Homo sapiens: one gene and its partner. The protein of the gene in region 2 purifies or fractionates together with the protein of the main gene of each other region. This does not show direct contact. Each region holds a gene or a part of one and is shown on either strand. Other genes may lie near its edges.

Evidence for each region.
Region 1: the proteins of RAP1GAP2 (region 2) and PIP4K2A purify together in Homo sapiens (co-immunoprecipitation; one large-scale study listed by IntAct). This does not show direct contact.

Annotation. Positions count from the first base shown.
Region 1 is NC_000010.11:22,540,059-22,543,871, forward strand, and holds part of PIP4K2A (phosphatidylinositol 5-phosphate 4-kinase type-2 alpha), read right to left. Parts: intron 1,990-3,813; coding exon 1,746-1,989; intron 17-1,745; coding exon 1-16. UniProt on the Homo sapiens protein: Catalyzes the phosphorylation of phosphatidylinositol 5-phosphate (PtdIns5P) on the fourth hydroxyl of the myo-inositol ring, to form phosphatidylinositol 4,5-bisphosphate (PtdIns(4,5)P2). Has both ATP- and GTP-dependent kinase activities.
Region 2 is NC_000017.11:2,799,357-2,803,169, forward strand, and holds part of RAP1GAP2 (rap1 GTPase-activating protein 2), read left to right. Parts: intron 1-1,158; coding exon 1,159-1,194; intron 1,195-3,813. UniProt on the Homo sapiens protein: GTPase activator for the nuclear Ras-related regulatory protein RAP-1A (KREV-1), converting it to the putatively inactive GDP-bound state.

The DNA of each region.
Region 1 (3,813 bases), on a different chromosome or scaffold from region 2:
TCCTTCCTAGGCGAGTCTGCAGAGACAGGAGAGCAATGACTGTGGGACATGTGACAACACCAGTGCCAGCATTGCTGCTGAGGGAGGGAGGGAGGGAGAAGTGAGCCTGGAGGGAGGGGATTCAATGGAACGCGGATGGAAGGAGTCCAGAGACAAACTCTACACCACCCCTGCGGATCCTGACTAAACACACAGCTTGCCTCTCTGACCCAGTCCCCCTGCAATTTAAAAAGAAACAACCCTAACAACTAAAAACATCATCACACCAGGGTATCAACAGTGGAGATCCAACGGTGGAACGGAGTCTTTTTTTTTTTTTAATTTGCATTTTCTTTAATAATTGTGTATTGCTTTGGTGTGAAGAAATATGCTATTTAAAAATACCCTATAAAACAGAACTAATTATGTACACTAATCCTTTACATCAAATGGTAGAACTGTTCATAATTCTCACTGGATACAGTATCAGAACTGGATAAAGGCATACATCCACTCCAATGTCTATTTTCTTTTTTTGAGACAGAGTTTTGTTCTTGTTGCCCAGGCTGGAGTGCAATGGTGCGATCTTGGCTCACAGCAACCTCCACCTCCCGAGTTCAAGTGACTCCTGCCTCAGCCTGCCGAGTAGCCGGGATTACAGGCATGCATCACTATGCCCAGCTAATTTCATATTTTTAGTAGAGATGGGGTTTCTCCATGTAGGTCAGGCTGGTCTCAAACTCATGACCTCAGGTGATCTGCCTGCCGCGGCCTCCCAAAGTGCTGGGATTACAGGCATGAACCACTGCGCCCGGCCCGTGTCTGTTTTCTATCCATTTCCAAAAATATGAACAGTAAGAAAAGTACATTTGACTATCTAATTTTCTGTGTTGAAGAAAACATTTTGGTGAGCAAAACAGAACAAAACAGAACTCAGATCCTCAGCTGATATGCCATTTGAGATTAAAAAACAACTGATGAGCCACAGTTTTTATTATTCAAAAACCAAGAAGCTGTTTTTATCCTATCACAAAAATATTTTGGTATTGTCACGGATAAGTTGCTAAGGTAGGATGTAATATTCAAATAACTGGTGCACCCAATCACCTGGATACGGTGGATTAAGATTTATCTGACTCTAGGGAAGAGGGCCATAGGCCCTTCCATGGGGGAGGACAGCAGAGCCAGACTCAGCAGCAAATCAGATTCCCACCCCACCCACAGGGCCCATCTTCACACACCCTTCACACCCCTGAGAGGGAGAGGGCTGTTGGTAATGACAAGAGGACAAGCTAAGGGTCACAGAGGATCACATGCATGTGCCTAGCTTAGACTCATGATGCTTTTGACTTAGATAAAAAAGATAACTAGGCAAAAACGTATTAATATTTTAAAGCATTTCTGATGTTATTTGTGAACATGTATGTGTGCATATGTACATGCATGTTGTGTTGTGTGTGCACGTACGTTGTATGCCAGTGTGTATGTGCATATGTACAGGTGTGTTGTACATGTATAGTATAGTTCGTGGTTTTGCTGTATTCCCTCAACATCACAGAATTCAAAGGTCCGATCGCCTTATGTTTCAGCACTGAGATCACGGTTAGCTTTAACATACTCTTGTCCCCAAATCCATTTCTTTGGAGTTTGGAGGATGAGTGCTGCCGGGCAGCACCCTCATAACTGGGGTAGTGCTTACTGGTAGATAACAAGGCCAAAGTCAAACCACTTCACATGCAAAAAGGGTCCACAGTAATCAAACTTACTTTCATGGCACTTAATTCCATAGACGTCGATGTTCGGATCGAACTCCCCGGGAGCCAGGGGTGGTGAGCTGTTCAGTGTATTCCCGGGGCTATCTGGGGGGGTTCCCACCGGGTGGGTGCCATCGCTCTCGCCCTCCTCCTCCCCATCGTTCTCCTCACACTCCACTTCCTCCTGTTCGGCTCTCTCCACATCATGAATTCCCACCAGCAGACTGTAGTCCATGAGCTTCAGCTGGGCCAGAAACTGGGGACAGAGGCAACAGGGTGAGTCAGCCACACCTTAAACATAAAAGCCAACATTTAAAGGAGACAAGCTCGGGTGACACCCAGAGGGAAGGCTGTGGGGTGGGGCAGCAGAGGCGCCGGGTGCCTCCTTCACGATGCTCTTACACTCCTGGGCTGTTTCTCTATCTAAAATGTAGCCTCACACTTCAGGCTGGCTCAGAGCTCAGGCTGTTTACCCTGGAATGCCACACTGGATGCGGAGAGGTGTGTATCTATCACAGGGTGGCTGGATTTCACCAGATAGCAAGGAGCATGACCAGTAAGAGATGCGGAGAGAGACTGGGAGAGAGAGCAAGTTCCTCCCAATGATTAAGACTGGCTAATGGGGAAACCCAGGCATCTCCCAAGTAGCTTCCAGCGGAGTCTCTGGTGGTAGTTCAGGAAAGCACCCTGGAATTCAGCATGCTCTGTGGAGGCGATTGTTACGCTGTTGTAAATAAGTAAAAGTAAAGGCACTGTGTCCACATCTGGTGAGTAATGCAGTCCTGTCCAGGTCAACAAGGTGCTTTCCACGTGTGCTTTCCACGAAGCACCACACATCCAGGATTCCTGTCCTCCCTCTCCTCCTCCAGCCGTGGCTAGAACATAATGTGGGGGCAAGACCCAGCTCTGTGTGTTTGGCTACTCCTGTCTGCCCAGTTCTTTGACTTTTCAGATCACGATTTCTCTTTGTTTCCCTTTTCTTATTTGAGACCTTCAGCACAACGTTCCAATGTTGCCATAAGATGTGGATGGTTGTGCTGAGTGCAAACAGTGGCAGCCCATCTGCGGGCTGGACCCAACTGGCTCCCTGACCCCGTGGCTGGCTGGCTCTGCACAGGATCCTGTTCCACTCCGACCTTGGGCTCAGGGTCCAGGAAGGTTCACGGTCCTGGCTCTGGAAGGACTCAGTGCCACCTCGCTGGGGAATGCAGAGTGGCTGAGCAGCCTCTGGGCTATGCTGATAGAATTTAGGAAGCAGATGTCCTCATGCAAAGGGCAAACAGATAAAATCACAGGTCTTGAAGTTCTGGCTAAAAATGAAATCAATTTGCTAAGCCCCGCAGAGTCATTTCTCCTCAGCCTGCTGGGAAGGAGTTCTGTCTCGAAACTGAATGAGAAGCCCCGATTCCTTACAGACGAGGAGAGGACCCCTGGGCACAGGGCTATCCCACTCTCCAGCTGGTTCCTGGTGCCTGCAATTCTCCATCAGCCAGCACCCCGCTCAGCCCAGCAAACTGGCCAGAGCTCCCACTTCGCTGCCTTCCCAACAGGAATCCCCCAGGGCCAGCTATATCTTCCCCAATTGTTTTGAGCTCAAAAAAGAGAAATCACACAAATCTTACACTCAAATATTTAAGCAAAGTGGGAGAAACCTGTTTGTTTAAAAATAGAGGCAAACCCCTCGTGGAAACAGCATGGGGCTCCTGCGTTCAGCTTTCTGGGTCCCAGAGAAGAGGGGAAGCCACTGCTCATCCCCCCTGGTCTTTCCCCAAACTCCCCCATTACAGTAAACATGAGAACTGACTTTCCACTTGCACCTCTCTCTGCCAGATTCCTTTCCAGCAGTCAGAGACTGCGCATCCTCCCCTAGAATCTCGGCAGCTGCCAGGCTGTGAGGTGCACCTGGCCGAGATCACCTGGCTGGGATCATGTTTGTGGGGGCGGCTGCGGGGAGAAATCTACAGTGGTGGAAGGCTCACTTGAGTCCTCCACCCGCACGGTGAAGCCAGCCAGGGAGCTGGGTCTCGGGTACCAGCTCCGCTATACATGGGCCTGTGGATGTGGAAGAGAACTGGGCACT
Region 2 (3,813 bases):
TTTGCTGTTGTAACTGAGATCAGAAGGTGCTGGGAGTTTACTCAGAGTGAAAGGACCCCGTCCCCTAGCTCCAGGCCTCAGGGTGACTTGTGGGCTGGCTCAGCTCCGTGTCCTCTCCTCTTCCCTGGAGCTGTGACTGTGGGAAGCCTGAGGCAGCGCTGGGCTGGCCAGAGAAGGGTGCCGGAAAGAGCCTCCAGGGTCTCCAGCATGCTGGAGCCAGTGGCAGTTTTAGTGAAGCTGACAGTGATGGTGACACTGATGATGACATGTGGTGACATGGACAGTGATGGTGACACGAATCGTGATGTTGCAAAGGCAGCATTGGTGCTGGTGGCAGTGCTGGTGACAGTGGTGGTCACGACCCTTCCACAAGAGGAGATACTGACAGTGGGAACACTGTCCACCTTTCTGCCTCTGGAGAGGGAGGAGGGGCCTCTTCTTGCCAGCCATAAGGGCTGGCATATGCAGGGGGGTAAAAATAGAACCTCAGCGGCGCTGTCTCCCCTTCCAGTGAGGGCGGGCACAGGCTGGGGATGGAGGAGCTGGCTGTGAGGGCAGTCTGCAGCAAACGTGATCTTCCCCGCTCTGAACCTCTGTGCCTGATACAACCCACCAGGGTCTGCCCCAGGAGCAGGGTCTGCCTCCCTGGATGGACTGGTGGCTCCTTGGGCAGGAGGGTCCCTGGGGCTGGGGATGCTTGCGTCTTCCCAAAGCAGACGCCTGGGAAATATGGATGTCCACCTGGCATTCAGATTGACATCCGTGCTGACCCCTGAAGCCGGGTTGCTGGGTTCTCTTGCGAGGGTAGCCGTAATAAAGGGAGAGGCTGCATACAAAGTGCTTACGATCCCTGGACCTGACGTGAGATACCTGAATTCAGACTGGGCCAGTGATTTTACCTTTCTGAGCCTGGGTTTCCTCATCTCTGAAATGGGGAGAATAATAATACGCATGTTGTAGGGTGGTGTGTGGCCCCAGCTCTCCCAGCACTCAGAGGCGTCTCTCCCCCTGCTAGCGGAGAACTGGCCCCTTTAGCCAGTCCCTGACAGAGCCCTGCTGTCTGGTGGTTTGGGCTGTCCCGGGGACTCCTCCATACAGATGCTATGTAGGAGTCTTCAGCCTCAGCACTGACCGGAGCCCTTGCTTTTCTCTTGGCAGGATCGACAAGACCATGCTGGCAAGTCTGAAGGTCAAGTAAGTAGCAATTTCCTGTTCTGTAAAGGTCAGAGATGACGCGGATCAGAGCGCCGGGCCCTTGCTCCCCCCAGGTTGTGGGAGACACAAGAGGGGCTGTCGTGTTTGTCAGATTCCAGTCCGAGTCCATGGTGCTTCCAGATCGGAGGAGGCTGGACTAACTCTTATTCCTGGGGTGTTCAGGGAGAGGTAGAGGTGGGAATGGAATCACCAGGGGCTAGAATGGTGGGAGTGTGTGTAGCAGGTGTAACATTCAGTCCCATTATTCTTTTTTTTCTTTTTCTTTTTCTTTCTTTCTTTCTTTCTTTTTTTTTTTTTGAGACGGAGTCTTGCTCTGTTGCCAGGCTGGAGTGCGGTGGCATGATCTCTGCTCACTGCAACCTCCACCTTCCAGGTTCAAGTGAATCTCCTGCCTCAGCCTCCCAAGTAGCTGGGATTACAGGCGCCCACCACCACACCTGGCTAATTTTTGTATTTTTAGTAGAGACGGAGTTTCACCATGTTGGCCAGGCTGGTCTCAATCTCTTGACGTCATGGTCCGCCCACCTAGGCCTCCCAAAGTGCTGGGATTATAGGCGTGAGCCACTGCGCCTAGCCCAGACCCATTATCTTCCTATCACTTTAGTTTTTAGATATATATTGGGCTGGGCATGGTGGCTCACACCTGTAATCCCAGCACTTTGGGAGGCCGAGGTGGGTGGATCACCTGAGGTCAGGAGTTCCAGACCAGCCTGGCCAACATGGTGAAACCCCGTCTCTACTAAAAATACAAAAATTAGCTGAGCGTGATGGCACTTGCCTGTAATCCCAGATACTCAGGAGGCTGAAGCAGGAGAATCACTTGAACCCAGGAGGTGGAGGTTGCATTGAGCCGAGATCACACCATTGCACTCCAGCCTGGGGGACAGAGTGAGACTCTGTCTCAAAAAAAAAAAAAGAAAGATAATTACATTTTTTATCACTTTAATTTTTATGTGAACTCCCAATCCTGGCAGTGACTTTCTGACATTCCCCGCCTACTAGGACCTGACTAAACACTCCAGGGTATGTGTGTGTGTGTGTGTGTGTGTGTGTGTGTGTGTGTGTGTGTGTGTGTGTGATGTCAGCTGCTCATCAAGTCATTTGTTGCCAGGTATGTCAGCATGGGCAGCCTGGCCCTGGGGCTTTCTGAGGCTCCCACGCCAGACTCAGGGTGTGGGAATTACCTGCCTCGGTTTACCGTGTATCTCTTGGTCCGTCTGCTGAGGTCCGAAGCAGGCACAGCCCTCTCCTAGAACCTCTGACCTCTCTTCCCTCACCACCTTCATTCCTTTTTCCTCTGCGTTTCTGGCCAAACCATTTTGTCTGCATCCTGATCTCCTTTTTCTTTTGAGACTTAACCAAAGTGTAGCCTGCGTCCAGCTGCACCCCTCCCATGAGGCAATGAGTACTGGCTAACCATCTGCTCCAGTGGAGTGAATTGAAAAGGAGGGAAATTCTAGGAGGAAAAAAGCATTGGCCTCTAGCTCAAAATATTCTCCCGGCACATGTGAATTCACTGTTGCATGGAAAATTCCTCCAATGAATCGCCCTCCTTCCGAGGCAGCTTCTCTGGGTTGTCACTCCCCCATCTCGGCAGAAGGTTTTCCCTGCCTAGTCTCCCTCTGTCATGCCATTCAGTTGCCAGCCCTGGTTGTGTATCCCCTGGATGCAGGTCCCTGGGCAAAGTACGGCCAGTCTTGACGGTTGGCATAAAAGAGGGTCAAAATAAGAGGTTTCCCACTTTGGTTGGTTTTGTTCAAAAAGGTGAGGCTGGGCAGTTCGCAGGGCCGGGATGGAGGACAGACTTTTCCTGCCCTTCAAGAGCTTTCAGTTTCTCTGTTGAGCTGATGCCAGGAAGCTGGATGTGGTGGTTCACGCCTGTAATCCCAGTACTTTGGGAGGCCAAGGTGGGTGGATCGCCTGAGGTCAGGAGTTCGAGACCAGCCTGGTCAACATGGTGAAACCCTATCTCTGCTAAAAATAAAAAAAATTAGCTGGGCGCGGTGGCGGGCACCTGTAATCCCAGCTACTCGGCCGACTGAGGCAGGAGAATTGCTTGAACCTGGGAGGTGGAGGTTGCAGTGAGGCGAGATCGCACCACAGCCTGGGAGACAAGAGTGAAATGCCGTCTCAAAAAAAAAAGTCTAGAGCTGATGCCAGGAGTGCCATGGAGTAGTCCCGAAAGGCTGCCTGGAGGAGGTGGCCTCTAAAGTAGCTCTTAGAGATGAAGCAGGATAGTAGGACCCCCATGTCTGTGCTGGCTTGGCATGGTGTGTGCATCAGTGCAGACCCATTCAATCTGGAGGTGTCAGGGCAAGTCACCCGGGACAAGATGCTTCCCTTCTCTGGGCTTTAGTTTCCATATCTTTTGTCCAGTGGACACAATAATGTCTGGTTTTCCTAGAGCTTTCTAGAGCATATTTGCATACTGAGTGAGACGCCAGGCATGAAGCAGAGCTGCTAAGGGGTGTAGAGTGGTCAGAGTGTTCTTTTGGTGCTGTTTTGGGACATCTAGTTCAATCTCACAAGCACTTATCGAGGGAGGGCCTGTTTGTAAATATAATATCTGCAACCTGGAAGTGCACCAGTTATAGGGTA